2 separate regions of the Homo sapiens genome follow, and region 1 is linked to region 2. Evidence: fine-mapped QTL for protein levels in blood plasma. A gene starts in region 2. The other region holds a variant in brackets. All regions are shown on one strand. Distances are from middle to middle. Region 1 overlaps CD109 (CD109 molecule). Region 2 holds the start of CD109 (CD109 molecule).

Region 1 (10,096 bases), 52 kb after region 2:
ACTGCTATTCCCCAATCCTTTTTCCCTAGCTTCTACACCTATTGCCTTTACTTGCTGCCAACTTGTATAGCTCTGAAATCTAAATGGAGGGCATTAAATGGCATATAAATCTAAATGGGGGGCATTCATTGGAATGAATGAGACATAAACACAATGGGATGGAAACAATTTTAAAAAGCAATGAGACTTAACTGTTTTATGTGATATAAATTGGTCATTTAGTATATAACATGTAAACCTTTATATTTTTCTATATTTATGTGACATATAAACATATAAGATATAATCAACTTTTTCTGTATCTAAAGGGGAAGATATGTAATATGAAATGCATGAAATTGTAGCTTATTCTAAGCATTGTTGCTGAGCCTTGAGTAGGTGGGACTCGTGTGTGAATTGACCTGTATGAATGAGAACAGTGCTGGAGGCACAATGGACTCTCAATATTTGCTTCATGGCCACCCTGCATCTTTATGGGTGTTTGTATGATGTGTTTACCAATATTATTCTTTTTAAGGTAGCAGAAGCTCTACCGAATGAATGTATGATGTGGTTTTAAAGAACATTTGAGGCAATATTATGAAAGGGGCTCATACTGTTAGAGAACAATGTAATGCATAACCATTAAAGTCATGGACAATTTTCAGTGAGGTCTTTGCTTATTTCCTTACTTATAACAGTGTAATAATAACCACTGTTATAAATGGCAGCCTAGAGCAGGATGTGATGAGTTCTAGGGGAAGTGGAATTCTTTATATCTGAGCTTGTAGAGAAAGTGGAAAGAGTAGGCATTTGTGAAACTTAGAAAATAGGGAAAAATTTGTGTGGGAGTAGGGAAAATGGAAGAGAACGTTATGTGTCTGGGGATTTGGGAGAAGTTGATGTTACTGGAGCATGTGGAGAATGATGGCGGTGTAGATTAGGAAGCACGTTGTGAGTTTAAAGTAGTTTGAATATTATTTTCAGTTCCCACTTAAATTCTTAAGAATCACTTTTTTTGGTCCATCCATCCATCGATCCTTCTATCCACCCACCCACCCACCAACCCAGTATGTGTTAAGGACTTTATGGCTGTGATGAATACAAAGAAGGTAAACATATGACCTCCATTTTCAAAGGTCATTGTCATGGTGACATGAACAATATGATAAAAATTAAATGACATAAGGGGGACAGACAAACACAGGGCAGTGCAATAGCAGAGGAATTGTAAGGTGTTCAGTCCAGCTTGGTGATAAAGAGGGTTTATTGTTAGCACAAGCACTGATGTTTTGGGGCCAGCTGCTCCTTCTGTCTCCCATGGTCTGCTCTGTTCTCCTTTCACTCTTCTGCCAACCTTTGAGGTGTTCTTCAGTTCTTCTGATTCCATTAGCTTAGCTAAATAACCATCATGCCCAGAATCTTTAAAGCAAGCCTCTGCACAGGTGGCTGGCAGCCTGTGGGTGGGCCGCCCTGGGTCAAGGTGTCCATTTTTGGTCCATTCAGATGCCACCTATGCACAATGACCAGCAAGAGCAGTTTTAGCTGGATAACAGGCGCTGAGGGATTAATTTGTTCATTGAATGGTGGACAGAATAAGTACCAGAAGAGAGGGGGATAGAATAGCAGAGGGAGACTTTGCAGAAGATGTGAGATTATACTTTGAAAGATTTATAGGATTTATCATGTTGTGGTTTGTGGACTTGGCTTGTCATATTGCTTTTATAGAAAACAAATGCTCTTAAGGAAATTTAGGTGCTTAAAAAATGAAAAGCATTTGCAGGATCTGGCCCTTGCCCAACTTTTCAGTCTTGTAAAGTGCCGCCCTTCCTCTTGAACTCTATGCTTTAGACATCTTATGTCCCTTAAGTTTCTTAAACTCACCGATCTGTCTCATTCTAGAGCCTTTCATCATGCTGTTCCCTCTGCTGAGAATGTTTTTTCTTCCTTATTCTCGCTACTTGCTTTTAACCTGCAGCCATTCTCTAAAGTGGCCTGGCTGTTCCAGACATTCCCATAGTACTGTGTGCTTCCCTTAATTCATTCATCTCACTTTTAATTAGTGGTCCATGATAGACAGTAGCCTTTGTAAAGCTGGTGACCTTCTGGTCTTGCTCACCTCTCTATTCCTGGGACCAAGTTCAGTGCTTTTGCATGTAAGTAGAAAGCAGTATTTTCTTAAAACGAATGTGTGAAAACTATATAGCAATAATTTGTCTTGAACCAAATGCAATTTTCCCTTTTGTATATTCTATAAAGCATCTTTATCTTTTTGAAGACAAGTATACTGATCAGGTACTTGTCATTTGAGGTATGTTAATTTGAGGCATTCAGCTAAGAAAAAATAAGCCCCTTAAAAAAAAGAGCCCTTTTAGAACCACCAGGGGTCAGTATAACCAAGGAAATGTTATGAGAAGCAACTGTGGCCTTGGTCTCTGGCTTTTGTTTTTCTTTGACTACTGCGCAGCATTAAAGGACTGTATATTTCTTGTTATTAAACCCCTTTTCTTTTAGTAGTGAATAATAACATAGAGGAAATGTATTTATTATTTAAATAGCCCACCATTAGAGACTATATTTTTACTTTTCGGTGGCAGTCACCATTCTCAATATAAAACTCAGGGAAGGAAAATATTTATTTTCAAGAAAGTATTGGCTGGGCGTGGTGGCTCACACCTGTAATCCCAGCACTTTGGGAAGCCGAGGCGGGCGGATCACGAGGTCAGGAGACCGAGACCATCTTGGCTAATACAGTGAAACCCCGTCTCTACTAAAAATACGAAAAATTAGCTGGGTGTGGTGGCGGGCGCCTGTAGTCCCAGCTACTCGGGAGGCTGAGGCAGGAGAATGGCGTGAACCTGGGAGGCGGAGCTTGCAGTGAGCCAAGATCATGCCACCGCTCTCCAGCCTGGGCGACAGAGTGATACTCTGGCTAAAAAAAAAGGAAGTATTTTTTAAATTTTTTAATTTGTAAGAGACAGGGTTGTCGTCTGTCACTCAGGCTAGAGTGAAGTGGCACAATCATAGTTCACTGCAGCCTCGAACTCCTGGGCTCAAGTGATCCTCCTGCCTCAGCCTCCTGAGTAGCAGGGACTACAGGTATGTGCCACTACGCCTGCCTAGTTAAAAAATTTTTTTTTCCTTTTCATAGAGACAGGGTCTTGTTATGTTGCCCAGGCTGATCTTGAGCTCCTGGACTCAAGCAATCCTTCTGCCTTGGCCTCACAAAGTGCTGGGATTACATGTGTGAGCCATCATACACAGCCTTTGGGAGAGTTTTGAAATTCCATTTTGTCTGTAGAAAAAATATGGAATGATATGAGTATTCCCACTGATGGACAATCTCTTTAAGAATTACCGGAGTTATCAGAGCTTTGATTTGTAATGACTATACAGGTAATCAGAAAGTGGTATTCTTCAGTTACCCTTTGTCCTAGGTCAGGAAAAGGATCCTTTAAGTAAAACATACTTGACGGCTCCTTGGCATTTCTCCACTTGTATTAATAACATGTTTGTTTGTAGAGTAAGAGTGAATAAGTCCTTTATGATACCGTGTTAACCTTTCTGGATTAATCTAAATTGTTTGCCCTTCAAGTATTGTATTGCTTTTCACCTTCAAGGTTTTTTATGATAGTAATGGTGAGTAATTATTTTGGTCTAGTATGATTTCTAGTTTTCTTTTCTTTCTTTCTTTTTTTTTTTTTTCGAGACAGAGTCTCGCTCTTTTGCCCAGGCCGTGGTGTGATCTCGGCTCACTGAAACCTCCACATCCCAGGTTCAAGCGATTCTCCTGCCTCAGCCTCCTGAGTAGCTGGGATTACAGGCATGCACCACCATGCCCAGCTAATTTTTGTATTTTTAGTAGAGACGGTTTCATCATGTTGGCCAGGGTGGTCTTGAACTCCAGACCTCAAGTGATGCACCCTACTCGGCCTCCCAAAGTGCTGGGATTACAGGCATGAGCCACTGTGCCTGGCCAAGAAAGGAAACAAATGTTTTGGGGGATTAGTTAAGTGATTTGCCCAATGTCCCACAACTTACCAAACTAGGATTAGAACTCAGGCCTTTTGACACCAAATCCAAGGTTCTCTCTACCCTGCCACCTTGGTTTTCCATCTTATGTTTTATCTCTGTCATTGTTCAGCATATGATGGTGGGACATCATAAGTTCTCAATATATACATAGACTTTTTTTTTTTTTACAATGCTAGTTTAATCAAATTGCAAAGAAACTCTTGATGATTATAATGTTTAAGACCTCTTAAAATCAGTAAAGTTTAGTAAGAGCCCTGGCTCTTTTTGTGCTACTTATACGTGTGCTTAATTGACACACATATTCTAGTGTGAATAGTTCTTTGCTACTTTGGGGATTGTACTTCTTCTCTTGAGAATGTGACCAAGTCTTCTACTTCTGCCATACTTTGATTGCCCTGCTCTTTTTCATCATTTCTTTGTCTAGAGCACCAAGCCCTCCTCTCAGAGGGCAGAGGTATATTTTAGCTGTAACATCTTTTCATAGAAGTGTGTTTTATAGGGCCGTTATACTTTAGGTACATTATAAGTTGAGTGTGGGAATATGTTCTGATTTAATAATTGACTTGAAAATACACCTTAGGAAGATAATGTGTTTTAAAAGTTA[G/C]ACATTCCTTTATTTTCATTTCTTTGCAATATAGTTCTCTAGGTACCTTATCTCTAGGTATGTTATCTCTTGATTGGTGTTGACAGTTTTCTCAAATAATTGCACATGGTTTTTTTGTTTTGTTTTGTTTTGTTTTTTGAGAAAGAGTCTCACTCTGTTGACCAGTCTGGAGTGCAGTGTGCAATCTCAGCTCATTGCAACCTCCACCTCCCAGGTTGAAGTGATTTTCCTGCCTCAGCCTCCTGAGTAGCTGGGATTACAGGTGTGCACCATCATGTTCAGCTAATTTTTGTATTTTTAGTAGAGATGGGGTTTCACCATGTTGGTCAGGCTGGGCTCGAACTCCTGACCTCAGGTGATTCACTTGCCTTGGGTTTCCAAAGTGCTAGGATTACAGGCATGAGCCACTGTGCCTGGCCTGCAAATGGTTTTTCCCTCCATTTTTTATTTTCTGTAGTAAAATACACATAACGTAAAATTTGCCATTGTAACCATTTTTAAGTGTACAGTTCAGTGGTATTAAGTACATTAATATTGTTGTGCATTCATCACCACCATCCATCTCTGTAACTCTTTTCATCTTGCAAAACTGAAAATCTACACCTATTAAACAATAACTCTCCATTCCCTCCCACCCCCCAGCCCCTGGCAGCCACTGTACATTCTATCTCTGTGGTGTTGATTAGTCTTATATCAGCAGAATCATACAGGATCTCTTTTTGAGACTGGCTTTTTTCTCTTAGCATAATGTTATTATGGCTCACCCATGTTGTAGCATATATCAGAATTTTCTCTCTTTTAAAGGCTGAATAATATTCCATTGTGTGAATATACCACATTTGGTTGCGAATGTTTTTGCATCTATGATTTAAAAATTATATTCGAGGTTATTAGAAGGTGATTTTAGGGGTTCTTTAAAAGAAAGGCTAATGTTGGTGTCTGAGAACCAGGCTTCTGGGAGCCAGGAGGCATCTGGCCAGAGCAGTGCAGCCTGCAGCCCAGAGCTCCAGGTCTTTGCGTGACCCACGCACTGGTGCTCATGTTCCTCCAAGAGCCCGAAAGAAGAGCCTGAGTCACTGAGAGATTCCTGGTCATTTGATGACGGCAGCCCTGTGCTGTCTTTCCTCATTGTCAGATGGAAGTCTCTTCTTCTTTCTAGAGTGGCTTAGGCATTTGAGTTTACCATAATGGCCACCTGAGGCTGCAGCTGGTTCTGAAACATCAGTGTGCCACAGAATCAATGGACTGGGAGCTTGTTTAAAGATGCATAGTCCAGGTCCCACCCCCAGATCACAATTTACTAATTTTGGCATGGGAGCTAGGAGTTTGAATTTTAAATAAGCACTCAAGGAAATTCTACTAGTTTTTTGAACCACATTTTGAGAAGTGCTCATAAATGCCCGCAGCTAGGCATCTTTAGAATCCATCTTTTCCATTGAGAGGCAGTGTTGGGCAGTGTTGGGCAGTCAACAAGGTATGGAACTGGGGACAGGCCATCTGATTTATTCTTTGAATTCCTCAGCAGTGCTACTTTCTGCTATTTACTTTACCTTTTTAGGTAATCAGCTCAGTAGAGCTCCCCAGCACCTTAGACATACTAAGTCAGAATTTCTGGGACAATGTATATCCTTTACAACAGCTTCTCTGATGCTTCAGATGCACAGCCAGCTTGGGAACCACTGAACTTGATAATCATCTTTTCTATCTGTCACTAACTACAATTTCGTAACCGTTGTCTCAATCTTAAGCCATTGTTAGAGGTGGGGAACAAGAAATAGCAAGCAGAAAACTCAACAGGGTTAAGGCTTGAAGTCACTCTTCTGGAGCCCTGTATAATGAAACGGGTTATCAAATTATTATGTAACTCAGAAGCAATCTGCATTGAGTTATTTCTTTGCATCTAACAGTTATATCTAGTTTCTCTTGAGTTACTTGTTTTTTCTAGATTAGGTGAGGGTTGCCAACACCTTACTGCTTTTTATAACCTTTCAGGATATTCCTTATTTTTTCTGGACTTGTTGTCCAGCCTCTGCCTGGGTCAGCTTGCTGCTTCTGTTAAGTATCTCTGGAGCCGTTTTTCTTTTGCAAAAGAGCACATCTTTGTTTGGACAGTTCTTGTCCCTAAAGCACTCTACCAGGAGCATCTGCTTAACCCGCCTGGCTTGTGACGACAACTTAACAGAAAGCATGGAGCAAAACTTTGACAGGTCAGAAAACAGTGGCATTCTCTCTGAAATGTGGTTGTGGCTTCCAAAATACTTTCACTAGTCTTTGCTTATAAGAAGAATGCTTTGTTTGGGAAGGATCTCAAACTCTTACTTCCTTGTTCAGTGAGAAAGGGAGGGAGGAGATGGTTTTAGAATATTGATTTCTTAGAGCATTATCTGGCAGAGCTCAGCACTTTCTCCTCCATTCTTCCAAAGGCCCCGATAAACACCTCTAGAATAGCATTTATTAATCAGTGTAGCGTTATTTTCGTTTTTTAAAAACTGTGGTAAGATATATATGTAAAATTTACCATTTTAACAATTTAAAAGTTAAGTAGCATCAGGTGCATTCACATTGTGGTGCAACCATCTGCCACCATCCATCTCCAGAACCTATTATTATCTTCAGATATTTAAAAAAATGTCTGCCTCATTTCTTAAACTGTGAACTCCTTGAAGACAGGAATTCTATTTTATTAATTTTCATATTTGTTCTGTCTAATATAATATCTGACCTGTTATGGGAACTCATTCATGCTTGTGGGATGAAAGAATGAGTGAATAGAGCTTCTTCTAGATGATTGCTGTTATTATCCTTTGTGATGTTCTTTGACTTCTAGTCTCACTCTGCTATATCATCTTGCAACTTAGTAGAAATATCTTTGTATATTTTCATTTTGAGAATATATATGGTTGCTGTATTTGATGAACCTGTGAGCTAATGGAAAACAGGACTTTTGGATTAATGCCCTGGACTTTCTCATTTTGAAAATTAAAAAAAATCTCAGGCAAGAGCTGAATATTCTAGTTTGTTATAAAGTCTAAAATAGACTTATAATTTTGGTGCCATATTATTCTTGTGTCTTTATTCAGCCATTTGATCTGCTAGTGCCAGTCCTTTGGCAGTGTGCATTTTAATTTCTAGGCCCCATATGCAAATTTTCATGAGGAGTTCTTTGTTTTGTTCTTTCTCTACAGAAGCCACCCTAGGAGGACCCCTCCTTTCAAATGTGTCTTCTGTACCCCTCTCTGAAGAGACATGTTTTTGGCATCAGTTAGAAAACTTTGGGGCCAGACTTTAGGATGTTGTGTTCATCAATGAAATGGAGGGTCTGAGTATGTAGCATCATCAGTACATAGGATAGGGACTCAGTGCTATAGATGATCTTAGAGGTCGCCTAGATCCATCTCCCCACTTTATGGAGGAAGAATCTGAGATAAGTGACGTGACCTGGTTAGGCTCACACAGTGTGTTGTGGGAGGGTCAGGACTAGCAACTAGTTTACTCATACTTTCAGTTCTGTAAAATTAAATTATTTAATATGTGCAGCAATTGCTGTTTTATTTATTTATTTATTTTTGAGACAGAGTCTTGCTCTGTCACCCAGGCTGGAGTGCAGTGGTGCTGTCTCAGCTTACTGCAACTTCTGCCTCCCAGGTTCAAGTGATTCTCCTGCCTTAGCCTCCTGAGTAGCTGGGATTTACAGGCATGTGCCACCATGGGCCTGGCTAATTTTTGTATTTTTAGTAGAGACAGGGTTTCACCATGTTGGCCAGGCTGGTCTTGAACTCTTGACCTCAGGTGATCCGCCCGCCCTGGCCTCCCAAAGTGCTGGGATTACAGGCATGAGTCATCATGCCTGGCCAGCAATTGCTGTTTTAATATGGCCTCCTTTTAAGGTTGAATTTAGATGTCAACAGGGCTTGCTGTATGCATTGGTGGAGAAGATACCTACTTCTTTTATATGACTTGTGGATGCCACGGGATCACCTTGTTTGCACGTTGGATTGTTCCCAACGTGTCCCAGATTCTGACCACAGCAGCCATGTGTTTAGATTGAAGATTTGAGTCCAGCATGTAGGTTACTTGGTTCATCTATTTAATATCCATTAATATACTATTAAGGATTAGGCTGCTGTCACCTCACAGCCTCTATAACCTTGGTCATATGAGGCTTACAAAGATTAATTTTTTGTTGTTTGTTTTTGAGACAGAGTCTCGCTGTGTCACCCAGGCTGGAGTGCAGTGGCACAATCTTGGCTTACTGTAACCTCCGCCTCCCAGGTTCAAGCGATTCACCTGCCTCAGCCTCCCGAGTAACTGGGATTACAGGCATCCACCACCACGCCTGGCTAAATTTTTGTATTTTTAGTAGAGACAAGGTTTCGCCACATTGGCCAGGCTGGTCTTGAACTTCTGACCTCAAGTGATCCGCCTGCCTCTGCCTTCCAAAGGGCTGGGATTATAGGCATAAGCCACTGTGCTCAGCCAAGAAGATTAATTTTAAAAATAACTGTTTACCTTTAGGTAGATTCACAGAAAGTTGCGAAGATAGCACAAAGCGGCCCTATATTATCTTAACGCAGTGCACCCAGTGGTTATATCTTATGTTATTATAGTACAATATAAAAAGCAAGAATTTGACGTTTGTGTGGTATGTGTGTATGGTTCTGTATGATGCTTTATTTTCAGTGGCATAGAGGGAGTTTTGGAAAATGATAACTCACTGGGCTCTGACCAGTGGTGGCAGCCCTGGGTGAGGGGGAAGGGGGCACTGAAATGAGTACCAAGTCCCTGGGTGGAGTGAGGAAAGGGAGAAAGAGCAAGAAATGGAGTTATTTTCCCTCAAGGGTAACTTTCCTATTCAGTACAAACCTGTAGCTATGCTGCTGCTTTTGCTCCCTTGCTTGAGATAGGTGCCCAAGAAAGGTGGTCATGTTACATGTCTTTAAAAACCATAGTTCCTTCTACTTTGAGTAGGAACAGAGAGGGTTAAATGGGTGATTTTTGTTTATTGTTTGTTTTTAAAGAGAATATGTTTCTAGTTAGTACTTTTTTTTTTTCAACACCAAGGAAACAAGTTTGTCCCTTGTACTGCATAATGTATTTGTACTGCAGATGGTAACACTGTTTTAGGAGTATGAATGTGCTTGTGATCCCTGGATACCTGGCCACTATTCTGCTAACTGGAGGCTTGTATGGTCTATGTCTTGGTCATTGGTTAGATCCATTATTCCCAAGTCCTGTCACTATGAGTGACTGTCAGGTATAGACCAGCTTCAGTTCTTCAGGTGTTTAGTTCCAGCCTTGATAAGAACCAGAATATTTGTAATCCTTTCTAATGAGAGAAGGGATCCAGGAACAAAACTGTCTCCTGGGGAGGTTCTGATTCCTCCCTCCTCACACTCAGTAGATTATCTTCCTTTCCACTTCACAGAGAACACAGTCATCAGATGGGAATTTCTTTCACTTTTTCTGCCAGATTTGCAT
Region 2 (15,563 bases):
ATTACCTCCTACCAGGACTCTCCCACAACATGTGGGAATTCAAGATGAGGTATGGTTTGGGACACAGCAAAACCATATCATTCCACCCCGGCCCCTCCCAAATCTCATTTCAAAACCAGTCATGCCTTCCCAACAGTCCCCTAAAGTCTTAACTCACTTCAGCATTAACTCAAAAGTCCGCAGTCCCAAGTCTCATATGAGATGAAGCAAGTCCCTTCTGCCTCTGAACCTGTAAAATCAAAAGCAGGTTAGTTGCTTCCTAGATACAATGGAGGTACAGGCATTGGGTAAATACAGCCATTCCAAATTGGAGAAATTGGCCAAAACAAAGGGGCTACACGTCCCATGCAAGTCCAAAATCTAGTGGGGCAGTCAAATCTTAAAAGTTCAGAATGATTTCCTTTGACTCCATGTCTCACATCCAGGTCATGCTGATGAAAGAGGTGGGTTCCCATGGTCTTGGGCAGTTCCGCTCCTGTGGCTTTGCAGGGTACAGCCTTCCTCTTGGCTGCTTTCACTGGATGATGTTGAGTGTCTGCAGCTTTTCCAGGCACACAGTGCAAGCTGTGGGTGGATCTACCATTCTGGGGTCTGGAGGACGTGGCCCTCTTCTCACAGCTCCACTAGGCAGTGACCCAGTAGGGAATCTGTGTGGGGGCTCCCATCCCCCATTTCCCTTCAGAGGTTCTTGCCCTAGCAGAGGTTCTCCATGAGGACACTACCCCTACAGCAAACTTCTGCCTGGGCATCCAGGCATTTTTATACATCTTCTGAAATCTTTCCCAAGCCTTAATTCTTGACTTCTGTGCACCTGCAGGCTGAACACCACATGGAAGCTGCCAAGGCTGAGGCTTGCACCCTCTGAAACCACGGCCCGAGCTCTACATTGGCCCCTTTTAGCCACTGCTAGAGTGGCTGGGACACAGGGCACCAAGTCCCTAGGCTGCACACAGCACAGGGACCCTGGGCCCAGCCCATGAAATCACTTTTTCCTCCTAAGCTTCCAGGCCTGTGATGGGAGGGGCTGCTGCAAAGTTCTCTGACATGCCCTGGAGACATTTTCCCCATTGTCTTGGTGATTAACATTCAGCTCCTCATTACTTATGCAAATTTCTGCAGCTGGTTTGAATTTCTCCTCAGAAAATGGGATTTGCTTTTCTATTGCATTGTCAGGCTGCACATTTTCCAAACTTCTATGCTCTGTATCGCTTTTGAAACTGAAAGCCTTTAACAGCACCCAAGTCACCTCTTGAATGCTTTGCTGCTTAGAAATTTCTTCCACCAGATACCCTAAATCATCTCTCTCTAGTTCAAATTTCCAGAAATCTCTAGGGCAGGGACAAAATGCCACCAGTCTCTTTGCCAAAACATAACGAGAATCACCTTTGCTCCAGTTCCCAACAAGCTCCTCATCTCAGTCTGAGACCACCTCAGCCTGGATTTCATTGTGCATATCACTATCAATATTTTGGTCAAAGCCATTCAACAAGTCTCTAGGAAGTTCCAAACGTTCCCACATTTTCCTGTCTTCTTCTGAGCCCTCCAAACTGTTCTGACCTCTGCCTGTTACCCATTTCCAAAGTCACTTCAACATTTTTGGGTACCTTTTCAGCAGTGCCCACTCTACTGGTACCAATTTACTGTATTAGTCCGTTTTCACACTGCTGATAAAGACATACCCGAGACTGGGCAATTTACAAAAGAAAGAGGTTTAATGGACTTACAGTTCCATGTGGTTGGGGAAGCCTCATAATCATGGTGGAAGGCAAGGAGGAGCAAGTCACATCTTACATGGATGGCAGCAGGCAAAGAGAGAGAGCTTGTGCAGTGGAACTCCCATTTTTAAAACCACCAGATCTCATGAGATTTATTCACTATCATTAGAACAGCATGGGAAAGACCTGCTCCCATGATTCAATTACCTCCCACTAGGTTCCTCCCATGACACTTGGAAACTGTGGGAGTTACAATTCAAGATGAGATTTGGGTGGGGACACAGCCAAACCATATCACTATTTATCTGTTGATGGGCATTTAGATTGATATCATAGCTTGGCTATTGTGAACAATGGTGCAATGAACATGGGAGTATGGATCTCTCTTTGATACTAATTTCAGTTGTTTTTGATATATATTGAGAAATGTGATTGCTGGATCATACAGTAGTTCTATTTTTAATTTTTTGAGGAGCCTCTGTATTGTTTTCTCTTTTCTTTTGTCGTTCTTTCTTTTTTTTTTTTTTTTGAGACAGGGTCTTGCTCTGTCACCCAGGCTGGAGTGCAGTGATGCAGTCTTGGCTCATTGCAAGCTTGGCTTCTCAGGCTCAGATGATCCTCCCACTTCAATCTCCCAAGTAGCTGGGACTACAGCTGAGTGCCACCACTCCTGGCTAATTTTTGTATTTTTTTGGGGAGATGAGGTTTTGCCATGTTGTTCAGGCTGGTCTCAAAGTCCTGGGCTCAAGCGATTCACCTGCCTCAGCCTCCCAAAGTGCTGGGATTATGGGTGTGAGCCACTGCACCTGGCCAACTTTTGTCTTTTTTTGATGATATCCATTTTAACAGGTATAAGGTGATATCTCTTTGGTATTGATTTGCATTTCCCTGATGATTAGTGGTATTGAACATTTTTTCATGTACCTGTTGGCCATTTTATATGTCTTCTTTTGAGAAATGTTTACTCAATTCCTCCCCCTTCCCCTCTTTTTTAGAGACAGGATCTTACTCTGTCACCTGGGCTGGAGTGCAGTGGTACAATCATAGCTCACGGTAACCTCAAACTCCTGGGCTCAAGTGATCCTCTTGCCTCAGCCTCCTGAGTAGCTGGGACCACGCTACCATGTCTGGCTAGTCTTTTTAGTTTTATTTTTGGTACAGACAAAAGTCCTACTATTTTGCCTATGTGGTCTCAAATTCTTGCTTTGCCCATTTTTTTTTCTTTTTTTTTTTTTGAGGTGGAATCTCAAAAGGATGGAGTGTAGTGGCATGATCTTGGCTCACTGCAACCTCCACCTCCCAGGTTCAAGTGATTTTCCTGCCTCAGCCTCCCGAGTAGCTGGGACTACAGGCACAGCTAATTTTTGCATTTTTTAGTGGAGACGGGGTTTCACTGTGTTGGCCAGGATGGTCTTGATCTCTTGCCCTCATGATCCACCCGCCTCAGCCTCCCAAAGTGCTGGGATTATAGGCATGAGCCACTGTGCCTAGCCTGCTTTGTCCATTTCTTTATTGGGTTGTTTTCTTGTTATTGAGTAGTTTGAGTTCCTTATATATTCTGGATATAAGCCCCTTACTAACTAGATATATGGTTTGCAAATATTTTCTCCTATTCAATAGGTTGTCTGTTTACTCTGATGATTTTTTTTTCCAGAAGCTTTTTAGTTTGATGCAATCCCAGTTGTCTATTTTTGCTTTTGTTGCCTGTGCTTTTGGTGTTATATGCAAAAAAACATTGTCTAGATCAATGTTTGTGGATTTTGTATCATACAACATCAATGAATTTATTAGTTCTAACTTTTTTTTTGTATGGAATCCTTAGGGTTTAAAAAAATTAAACAATTTTTAAAAAATTTTATTTCAATAGTTTTTGGGGTACAGGCGGTTTTTGGTCACATGAATAAGTTCTTTAGTGGTGATAATTCTGAGATTTTGTCATACAAGCAGTGCACACACTGTATCCAATATGTAGTCTTTTATCCCTTACCCTCTGTTGTCCATCCCCTCAAGTCCCCAAAGTCCATTATATCATTCTTATCCCTTTGCATCCTCATAGCTTAGCTTTCACTTATAGGTGAAAACATACAGTATTTGGTTTTCCATTCCTGAGTTACATCAGGTTTCTGAAAATATATAAGATCATGTCATCTTTGCAAACAGAGACAATTTTACTATTTCCTTTCTGATTTGGATGTCTTTGTATTTCTTTTTCTTTGCTAATTGCTCTGGCTAGGACTTGTAGTACTATATGGAGTGAAGGTGATGAGAGTATGCATTCTTGTCTTATTCCTGATCTTAAAGGATAAGCTTTCAGCTTTTGACCATTTTGCATGATATTAGCTGTGGGCTTTTCTCTCTCTGTGCTATGCTGTGCTGAGTAGGCTTGGGAAAGGGGTAACTTGAGTAATGTGAAACTGTCTTTCCTACCTTCTTCAATGTGTCTTTTATTGTTTCTGTGCTCCAACTAGGTGCTGTAATCTCTCACCTGGAGTCCTCAGCACTGGTGAAGGTACTCTTGTGTGTGGATGGCTGTTCAAATTGATGTGTCTCTGAGGGGATGAGCCCTGGAAACTCCTATTCCAGCATCTTGTTGATGTCCTCTCTATTTTTCCTTGAAATTTATTTGTTGAAGGAATTGGATTATTTGTTTGATAGTGTTTTGCACAGTCTGAATTTTGCTAATACATCTGTGTGATGTTTAATACGTTCCTTCACATTTCCTTGCAAATTGGCATTTAAATCTAGAAATTTAATCAGATTCAGTTTAGAATTTTTGGCAAGACCACTTCTTAGGTGGTGCTTTGTTCTACTGGGCGGCATATAGTATCTGAATATCTCCCTTTGTGATATTAGCAGCCATTTATGATCACTGCTGAGTCTATACAATCCAATGTGGTAGCTATTAGCCACATGTGGCTACTTAAAAATATAAATTAAATTAAATTAAATTAAAAATTCAATTTCTCAGTTATATCAGTCCTCTCTCTTTCTTTCTTTTTTTGAGACAGAGTCTTTCTGTGTTGCCCAGGCTGGAATGTAGTGGCACAATCTCAGCTCACTGCAAACTCCGCCTCCCGGGTTCAAGTGATTCTTCTGCCTCAGCCTCCTGAGTAGCTGGGATTACAGGTGCCTGCTGCCATGCCCAGCTAATTTTTGTATTTTTAGTAGAGATGTGGTTTCACCATGTTGGCCAGGCTGGTGTTGAACTCCTGACCTCAAGTGATCCACCCGCCTGGGTCTCCCAAAGTGTTGGGATTATAGATGTGAGCCACTGCACCTGGCCTATCAGTCACATTTCAAATGCTAAATAAATTCATGTTGGTTATAGCTACTGTATAAGATACAGAACATTTCCATCATCACAGAAAGTTCTATTGGACAGCATTGGTCTAGATCTATTAATTCACAAAGAGTAGTGATATGGTGCTATTCTAACATTAATTTTACATTTATTAGTTGGAAAACTATAGAGAGAAATCCCTCATATCTACTATTTGGTTACCCAGTGATCAGTTCACGTAGGAAAGGCAGGATAAAGGTTAATTCTTTACCTTTAATGAGTTCATATTGCAGCATCCTCCAAAAGTGAATAACTAAAAAAAACCATGCATGATTTTAGACATTGGATACTCCTTCCTCCCTTCAGTCTTTCTTTCCTTCCTCTTTCTTTCTCTTTCTCCTCTCTCTCCTTCCTTCCTTCTTTCACATGCATGCTCTCTCTCTTCCCTTCTTCCTTTCCCCCTCCCCTTCCCTACCCTCCCCTCCCCTCTCCTTCCCTCTCCTCCCCTTCTTTCCTTCCTTCCTTGATAGGCTAATTGTCCTTCATGGAAACATTGTCTTGATGAACAGAACACAGCTTTTGGCAAATTTTGCTAACTGTCTGTGGTAGATTGAATTATTTGTCCCAATTTTCTCCCATCCATATCCTTTCCCACATAATTAAGTTTGCAGTTCCTCTAACCAAAAGGTGGAGTATTCTACCCATCCTTGACTTGGTCCTTGACCATGAAACTTGCTCTGGGCAACAGGATCTTCACAGATGTCAAGTAAACAGGGACCTAAAATGTGCTTGAGCAGTGGGGCTTGTTCTCTTGTGCTTCTACCATGACCGCAAGAAGGACGTGCTTTTCCCAGACTACTGTTCCAAGGAAAAGGAGAAACACAAAGTGGGAACTGCCTCAGCTGGCCTGCAAACTTGGGATCTGAAGCAAAAGTTTATTGTTGGTGTGATTTTGAGGTTGTTTCTTTGCTTATTAATAGATTAATAAGTTTACAAATTGTCCCATTAGGTGAGAAACTCCCAACTGGCATTGGCAGATGTCATCTCAGATTAATGTATCTTCCCCAGATAGTACTTTGCTGTTCAAAATATAGTAATTAAAATCATGCACTAGAAGAACACTAGAAACTTTGTAAGAACTCAAATTAATTGTGATTTCTTTTTGTCTGGTAGATTTTTTTTGGAAAACATACCTTTGCTTTTACTATTTATGATAATATATTAGTATTTTAATTTCTAATTGGCTGTTGTGCAATAAAAAATACACATATTGGTCTCTGCCCCCCAGTCCCTGGCACAGAGTTCTTAAAACTCTTGTAGTTTCCTGAGCAATAGGAGTGCTAGGAGAATCTTTCATTCTAATGTTTGGTTTCTGCTCTGGTTCTTGAAACAGAGTTCTTAATACTCTGTTAGATAGGGGTGCTAGGAGAATCTTTTGTTCTAATATTTGGTCTCTGCTCTGGTTCCTGACACAGAGCTCCAAAGACATTTGTAATTTCCTAAGTGTTAGCATCTGACACAGAGCTCCTAAATCCCTTGGAATTTTCTGTGCGATGAGAGAGTCTTTTGTACTAATGAGGTAACTCTTGGTAGGCTGCTGGATAGAGGCTGGTCACCAGAAAGACCAAGCTATGATTAGAAGCCTGGAACTTCTAGTGCACCCTCATCCTCTGGAGAGGGGAGAAGGGCTGGAAATGGCATTAATAATTATTTCTACTTGATGAAGCTTCCATAAAAATTCCTGGATTATAGGGTTCTGAGAGTTTTTCTTTGTTTTTTTTTTTTTTTTTTTTTTTTTTGAGACAGGGTCTCCTTCTGTCACTCAGGCTGGAGTGCAGCGGTGTAATCAAGCTCACTGCAGCCTCAATCTCCCAGACTCAAGTGATCTTCCTACCTCAGCTTCCTAAGTAGCTGGGACTACAGCCACGCACCACCACATCTGGCTAATTTTTTTGATTTTTAGTAGAGACAAGGTTTTGCTATGTTGCCCAGGCTGGTCTCGAACTCCTGAGCTCAAGCAGTACTCCTGCCTTGGCCTCCCAAAGTGCTGGGATTACAGGCATGAGCCACCAAGCCCAGCTGCTTCTGTTAATTAATTAATTAGTTTATAAATTATTCCATTGGGCGACATCTTTCAACTTCCAAACTAGAATTGGCAGAGGTCATTTATTATACCCTTTATTAATAAACTGGGAAACATAGTTTCCCTGAGTTCTGTGAGCTGCTCTAGCAAATTAACCAAACCCAAGGATGGGATTGTGGGAACCCCAATTTATAGCTGTTGGATCAGAAGCACAGGTCACAACCTGAGTTTGTGATTGGCATCTAAGGTTGGGGGCAGTCTTATGGGAAGGAACCCTCAACCTAGGGGATCTGCTGCTATTTCCAGGTAGTTTGTGTTGGGATTGAATTGACTTAGAGGATGCTCAGCTGAGTCTGCTGTAGAATCTGCCAGAGAATTGATTGCTTGGTCAGCATGGGAGAAGCTCTTCTATGCATTTTGGTGGCCAGTGTGTTATATTGAGTGTATAAAAGTGGGAAAACCACTTTGGTTCAGTTTTTCTTATATCCTTACACTACTTTATAGTCTTAATATGCTTATGACATATTTCTTGATCCAAGAAAACTGTAGACACATTTTTTTTTTTTACTTTATAAGGCTCTTAGTGTCTCAGTCAATGCTTTAATTCTTCATCCCTCTTTGACTTTGTAAGTTTTTGTCATCTGTGCTCTTTTCAAGTATTAACACCATTTACATTGTTTTGTAAACATTGTGTATTTCACATATTTCATCAAATCTAAGATACACCACTTACTTTAATACCAAGAAAGAAAATTTATTGTCAATTATTATTATGATACCATTGATTATAAGATCAGAAATGTTACAAATGTGAAAAACATATATTTTAGAAATGGTGAAACAGTGTAATTAAATCTTCTTTGTCAATTCTTTTATTCTGTTATAAATCAGTAAACCATACTTACATCAACACAACTAATTATTTTTCACTGCAAAGCCAACTAATGAATCATGATATATTCTTTTTTATTCAGTGTTTGCTTTTCCCTTGAATTTCTAAATTCCCTTCCTTTTTACTGCACTATTTTACTTTATCATAGTCTCAGTTTTCTTGTATTTCATTATGTACATCTATTCGATTAAGATCCCTTTTATTTCCCTTAAGAGCTTACTCCTGGAATTTTTCCTATTAGAAGTTCTCTCTTCATTTTTTTCTGGGGTTATATATACATTTCCCTTTTTCTTGGCTTATTTCACTTCGTTGCTAAATATGTCTTCCTAAAGTAACTTCCTAAAATGAATTTGTGAAAGGCGAAGTTTCTGAGCCATTCCATTTCTGAAAATGTTTTTATTCCTTTTGTTTGTTTTATTATGCAGGTGATAAACATTTTTTTTGTTTGTTTTTTTGAGACGGAGTTTCGCTCTTGTTGTCCAGGCTGGAGTGCAGTGGTGTGATCTCGGCTCACCGCAACCTCCGCCTCCCAGGTTCAAGAGATTCTCCTGCCTCAGCCTCCTGAGTAGCTGGGATTACAGGCATGTGCCACCACGCCTTGCTAATTTTGTATTTTTAGTAGATACGGGGTTTCTCCATGTTGGTCAGGCTGGTCTCAAACTCCTGACCTCAGGTGATCTGCCCGCCTCGGCCTCCCAAGTGCTGGGATTACAGGCGTGAGCCACCGTGCCCGGCTGCAGCTGATGAACATTTTATTTAAAAAAGGTTTGTAAAACATGAGGAAATGCTTATGATGGAATAATTAAATGGGAAAAGTAGGACACAAAGCACAAAGTTGTATTATATTTATAACATAATTACTCTTTAAAAAAGATACCAGCAAATTATGTGGAGAAAGAAAGAGAGGAAGGAAACACAACAAAATGAAATAATGCTTGTCTCTGGGTAGTGGTAAGACTGTAGCAGATTTTTTTTTCTCATCATCTTTCTACATTTTGTGTACTGAGCAGCTACTCTACCTGACCTCTCACCCCTTCTCCAGGGGAATAGATAGGGTCACCTTCATGTTTCTGCCGTGTTCCTCCCCTCTTCCCTTTCAGCCACCCACCTGCTCTCTGCTTTCCTGCTCTTCTCCCCGGCCACCAGAACCCACAGGCAATTAACACTTTCTGGACAAAGAAGGAGCCAAGGTTTTCCCCATCATTTTTCTAAAGGCAAAAGTGCATGGCTAGGGAGGGAGACTAGAAAGGCAACTAACTGCTCCCTGCCAGTCCTGGTCTCACCCCTTCCAATGTCCATCTGATTGGGGCCTGGACTCAGGTGGCCCCAGGAAAGCCTCCAGCTGGTGTTATGGACAGAGCAGACTATAAAGGGGAGGTGGGGTACCCCATACACCTGTATTTTTTACTTTCTGAAGCTTGGTTTAGAGTGCTAGGCAGTTGGGAACACTTGTCCATACTGTTACTAATGTGCCAGTTCACTTTGTGGGTTCAGGGCCACAGTCAGGCCTGTAGCTCCTTTAGTTCTCAGAGGCTCTCTTCCTTCAGTTTTTCTGAATTGTGGGCCAAATGTACATGAAGCTCTGGACAAAGGACACCAGCTTCTCCTGCAGGTTACTCATGACATGGAAGTTGGAGGTGGTAAGATGGACATGGGTTCCACTTCTCAATCAGTTTTTCTTTATTCTTACCCACATTTAGCTTTTCTCCCCTGGCTGACTCATAGTTATGTTATGCTGCACACCACACACAGGGGCAATGGTTTGCACAAACTGCCCTACCAGCTCCCATGATTGCTTAGGGTCTGTCTCACTCATAGTGGTTCTGCCTTTCTCATTGAATTACTCTGTTCTTGCATTGCTATAAAGTAACACCTGAGACTGGGTAACTTATAAAGAAAAGAAGTTTAATTGGCTCACAGTTCCACAGGCTATATAGGAAGCATGTCAGCATCTGCTTCTAGGGAGGCCTCAGGGAGCTTTTACTCATGGTCTCAACTTTAACATTGCCAAAGTATGGCAGAAGGGGCTGATGTATGGGCTCGTGGTATCTTACATGGCAGGAGAAGGACCAAAAGAGGTGGGGGGAGGTGCCACATACTTTTAAACAACCAGATCTCATGAAGATTCACTATCGCAAGAACAGCACCACGGGGGAAATCTGCCCCCATGATTCAATCACCTCCTACCAGGCCCCACCTCCGAAATTGGGGATTTGACATAAGATCTGGGCAGGGACACAGATCCAAACCATATCAACACCTTAAAGACAGCTCAGGAGGGACACAGGAACAGTGTGGGGTTCTTATCCAAGAGACCATTAGGTTTTCATGCAATAAGCATAGATGATATTTTTGGTATCAAAATTCAGAAGTTTTATGCAAAAGAGCTTCTAAGATGCCCCCTCAAAAACTATTTACTAAAATAATATTATTATTGTTTTCTTCTTAAAGGAGATATAATATATATTTATTGTAGGAAACTTGGCATATCCAGGTAATCACCAGGATACTGATAATAGCATTTTGGTGAATATCCTTCAAGTCTTTCTTCAGTGCATAGATCTGTAATGTCTATGTACACATAAATACACTTTATTTTTTATAAAAATAAAATGAAATTTAAATTCTGTTTTATAAAACAGACTTCCCCTCTGATATGGTTTGGCTGTGTCCCCACCCAAATCTCATCTTGAATTGCAGCTCTCATAATTCCCACATGTCACGGGAGGGACCCAGTGGGATGTAATTCAATTTTGGGGGTGGGTCTTTCCCATGCTTTTCTTGTGATAGTGAATAAATTTCACGAAATATGATGGTTTTATAAAGGGGAGTTCCCCTACATATGCTCTCTTGCCTGCCACCATGTAAGACTTGACTTTGCTCCACATTCGCCTTCCACCATAATTGTGAGGCCTCCCAGCCATGTGGAACTGTGAATCAATTAAATCTCTTTCCTTTATAAATTACCCAGTCTCAGGTATGTCTTTATTAGCAGGGTGAGAACAGACTAATATACCCTCCTTAATAACATATGAATATTTGTCTCTAGATGGTTAAACAAGCTCCAATTAAACAAATAGTTTTTAATTATTTCAGTATTCCATTGCATGGATATACTGTAATTTATTTAATCCTGTTTTTGTCTGTTTTGTGTTGCTATAAGGTAGTACCCAAGGCTGGGTAATTTATTAAAAAAAAAAGTTTACTTGGCTTACAATTCTGCAGGCTGTTCAAGAAGCATGACATTGGCATTTGCTTGGCTTCTGGTGAGGTCCTCAGGCTGCTTCCACTCATGTGGAAGGGGAAGGGGAGCTAGTGTGCAGAGATCCCATGGTGAGAGAGGAAACAAGAGAAGCAGGAGGTGCCAGGCTCTTTTTAACAACCAATTCTTGTGGGAACTGAGTACTCACTCACCCCCCGACCCCCAGGGAGGACATTCATCTATTCATGAGGATCCACCCACAGAACCCAAACATCTCACATTGTGCTCTACCTCCAACACTGGGGATCAAATTTCAGCATCAGCTTTGGGCGACAAACATCCAAATGACAGCAAACCCAATATCTTATTGTTACATGTTCAGACCATTTTCAGTTTTTCTTTTGAGACAGAGTCTTGCTCTGTCACCCAGACTGGAGTGCAGTGGCACCATCTTGGCTCACTGCAGCCTCCACCTCCTGGGTTCAAGTGATTGTCATGCCACAGCCTCCTGAGTAGCTTTTATTACAGGTATGTGCCACCATGCTGGGCTAATTTTTGTATTTTTAGTAGAGACAGGGTTTCACCATTTTGGCCAGGCTGGTCTTGAACTCCTGCCCTCAAGTGATTTGCCTTCCTCAGCCTCCCAAAATGTTGGGATTACAGGCATAAGCCACCATGCCCGGCCCATTTTCAGTGTTTCTTTTTTCTTTTCTTTCTTTTCTTTTCTTTTTTTTTTTGAGACGGAGTTTTGCTCTTGTTGCCCAGGCTGGAGAGCAATTCTGCGATCTCGGCTCACTGCAACCTCCAACGCCCAGGTTCAAGCAATTCTCTTGCCTCAGTCTCCTGAGTAGCTCGGATTACAGGCATGTGCCACCATCCACACTTGGCTAATTTTGTATTTTTAGTAGAGATGGGGTTTCACAATGTTGGTCAGGTTGGTCTCGAACTCGTGACCTTAGGTGATCCACCCGCCTCGGTCTCCCAAATTACTGGGATTACAGGTGTGAACCACCACGCCTGGCCTCATTTTCAGTTTTTCTTAATAAAAAATCCCACTTCTGAGATGAACATTTTTCATTAATCCTTTTAACACATTTTTATTGAATAGCTACTCTGTGCCAGGCATGTAATAGCCTCATCTCTATGCAAATCCATATGCCTAAATTTTTGCATGACTACGCCTTTCGACAAGTGTGTATTGTGGGAAGGAGGGCATAAACAGGAAGGTGGCATCACTTTAAAATCCACACAGATTTATACAATGTGGTTCTAAGACTTTCTGTAAGTCTTCTCGGGAGGCAACATTATCATCTAATCTTTTGCAGTCCCTCTTATGTTTGCCTACCTCTAGAATGAACCTGAATTTATTAATCCACCTTTATGAAGTGAAAGATTGAGAAGAATTTTCTGTGTTCTTAATTGCCTTTGCTCATCAAATTGCCCCCAAATTGCCCCCACTTGTAGAGTCTCCATGGCCTACTGTCTGCTAAAGTAAAGCAGAATCCCAGTCCTCGTTCCAGACCTGCCAAGTCAGAGTCTGTTTTCATGTGATTCTCACACACATTGGCATGTGAGAAGCACTGAGTTAGACCTTGGTGCTTGGCCCACCCTTGACCATGGTCCTCCTCTCTGAACAACGGAGGTGAGGAGACCAGTAGTAACAGCTGTGTCAGGAACAGGTCAGCACCCAGGGATCCACACAGACACTTTTGACCATTCCTAAGTCCTGCCTGCACAGGAAGTTGGCCACTAAAGATAGGCTGCCTGAAGGAAAGGACATAAGGACCTTTGCAAGCTGTTCAGCAGGGAGAAAAAGGGTGGAACAGGAAAGGGAGGAAAGCAAGTTTCTGGATTCCCCAAACCACAGTTTGTCTAGGTGCTACTTTCTCACTTTTCCTTATTTAGCACATAGCTTTGTCATGAGACATCTTTTTGCTGACCTCTTTTCCGTTTGCATTTTGCCCCATATTAGAATGCTACCATCTAAAACCGCTCCATGAATTAGAAAGTTTAAGTTGTCAGGGACTGAATGTGTCTGTTTTCCAACAGTTTCTGGCAGTTCCCTGCTTTTATGGTGTAGTCATGGTGAAACCTGAGTCATCTGAAGATGGTGGCAGTGCCAGAGAGCAGGAGAGAGGAGCTGCAAAGAAGCCAGACAGCGTTGGGCATCAATAACTCCTGGGCACCACCGGCCACTGGCCTTCATTCTGACAGGAGAGCCAACCCAACCCTAACTGTGTTCAGAGATTGCTCCAAGCTTTACAGTTCTACCAAATTCTTTCTGTAGCAAAAATATAAAGGCATCTTCTTAGGTAATTTTTTTTCAGGGTTCCAAGTAGCAACACCTAACGTCTGCAGTGCGAGTTCTCTTCTTCTTTTTTTTTTTAAGGTGATAAATCATAACATTTTCCTGGAAAGGAAAGCAGTAGACCTCATTTTTTGTTTTAAGGAAAAATAGTTTTTCTGTTTCCATTCATATACATTAAATAACTACCCAGGAAATACGCCCCGGTTTTGCGCGCGTGTGCGTGCGTGTGTGTGTGCGTGTGTGTGTGTGCCGTTTCTCTAAAATTCTGACTCATAGTCTGGAGGACAATGATTGACTTTTTTCCACTTCACATAGTTGCTATGAATTTCTCCTCACAAGGATGGGCCTGTTTACTCACCCTGGGCATCGTTGGTAGAGCGCTAGTGTAAACAGCCTGAGGAACCCGGTGGGCCGGGGAAGTGGGCGCGCTCTGTTCTCCGCGGCCAGCTGGGACGCCGGGCCAGGTGGGGCCGCCTGCGTTTAGCAACTGCTTTCTCACCCCCTGGATTTGCGATGTTTGCCACAGCAGCGAGAAGCGCCATTGTAATGGGGATGGGAGGGGTGGAGCCTCCAAGTCCTGTCTCAATTTAGATCTCTCACTCTGCTGTTAGGCGCGCCCATTTCAGATTACTAAACTCGAATTAAGAGGGAAAAAAAATCAGGGAGGAGGTGGCAAGCCACACCCCACGGTGCCCGCGAACTTCCCCGGCAGCGGACTGTAGCCCAGGCAGACGCCGTCGAGATGCAGGGCCCACCGCTCCTGACCGCCGCCCACCTCCTCTGCGTGTGCACCGCCGCGCTGGCCGTGGCTCCCGGGTAGGAACGTGGGCGCGCGGGGGGCGCGCGGGCGCGCGGGCCTGGGCCGCTCTGCGGCTCTGGGCCAGGGCTTCGGGGAGGTGGCGGCTGCTGTGCAGCAGCGGGTGGGAAATGCCCTCGCGGCTGCAGTCCCCAGCCTGGTACTGGCCTGGAGGTTTGACCATATGTAGCTTCAGCGTGGCTCTCCATGGGACAGTTAACTTTCTCCACTCATGAAGTTGTTTAAGCGTCTCCCCGGCCATAACAACTTTCTGAAGAGAGTCATTTTATTTTTAGTCCACATTGCCTCTGCCTTTTGCTTCTCAACTTTTTGCTCCCAGATTGCGATTCTTCTCTCAAAGACATGATATATTTTTTCTAACCAAGATGTCTCAACCTTAGCATTGCCAAAGTGTGGCGGAGGGGACTGATGTATGGGTTCAGGGGCAGACATTATAGGAAGAAAACAACAGCACCCAATAATGGCAAGCCCCATTCATTCCTAAAGATTTCTGTAGTTGAGCCCTAACCCCTAGTTATAGCAGAGAAAGTGCTGCTTTAGTGACTTCTTTTATGATTCGCTATACCTGGAATTTTCACCAGTTGTAGTTTATTTTCAAATGGTATATTTCAATCAATGGTATTGGTTAAATAATTTTTTACCCTCGTTGGGCAGCTACTCAAGGATAAAGGTTTGAATAAGAAACAGGCAAAATCTTAGTTAAAAAATAACAACAACAACAAGAAAATAATCACGCTGGGATAAGGTCCTCTGTAAAGGAGAAGCTTAGAGACTTTTGCTTTGCCAATAACTCCATTATGCCCCGGTGCAAGCCATTTACATCATGGTTCCTTCTGTGCGGTTCGTGGTTTATAAAATGGAAATAATAACACAGGCCTTCCTCTAGTAGTGATGCATGAATTACTGCATTAAAATTGATTTATGGGAATTATTGTTGTTTCAGTAGCATTTCAATTCAGTTGCCAAATAGAGCAGTGGGCAATGTTAACGGAAACAACTGCAATTGGCGCAGTATGGAGTGCCTATCGCACTAGGAAATCTGAGGGTCACAAAAGAAAGGAGATGTGAGGATAAGAAACTTTGTTTTTCCCTTGTTGGGAACTCTTTAGGCCTCGGTTTCTGGTGACAGCCCCAGGGATCATCAGGCCCGGAGGAAATGTGACTATTGGGGTGGAGCTTCTGGAACACTGCCCTTCACAGGTGACTGTGAAGGCGGAGCTGCTCAAGACAGCATCAAACCTCACTGTCTCTGTCCTGGAAGCAGAA

The links. PIP is the posterior inclusion probability: the model's chance that the variant is causal. Sun 2018 read protein levels with aptamers (SomaScan).
Region 1: its variant is fine-mapped to the plasma level of the CD109 protein (Sun 2018, PIP 0.95).

The regions. Positions count from the first base shown.
Region 1 is chr6:73,736,934-73,747,029 of GRCh38, forward strand. All of the region lies in intron 5 of CD109 (CD109 molecule), which reads left to right. Among named protein-coding and RNA genes, the nearest start is that of CD109, 46 kb to the left of the region's middle. The variant G/C (reference allele first, on the strand shown) is at 4,619.
Region 2 is chr6:73,681,994-73,697,556 of GRCh38, forward strand. CD109 (CD109 molecule) reads left to right here and starts at 14,210. Exons shown (of 33, transcript NM_133493.5): 1 at 14,210-14,296; 2 at 15,407-15,563. The coding sequence starts at 14,223. It overlaps CD109-AS1 (CD109 antisense RNA 1), which reads right to left and starts at 14,138. Exons shown (of 2, transcript NR_110889.1): 1 at 13,839-14,138; 2 at 11,910-13,582. RefSeq lists enhancers at 13,840-14,099, 14,053-14,767 and a silencer at 14,330-14,379.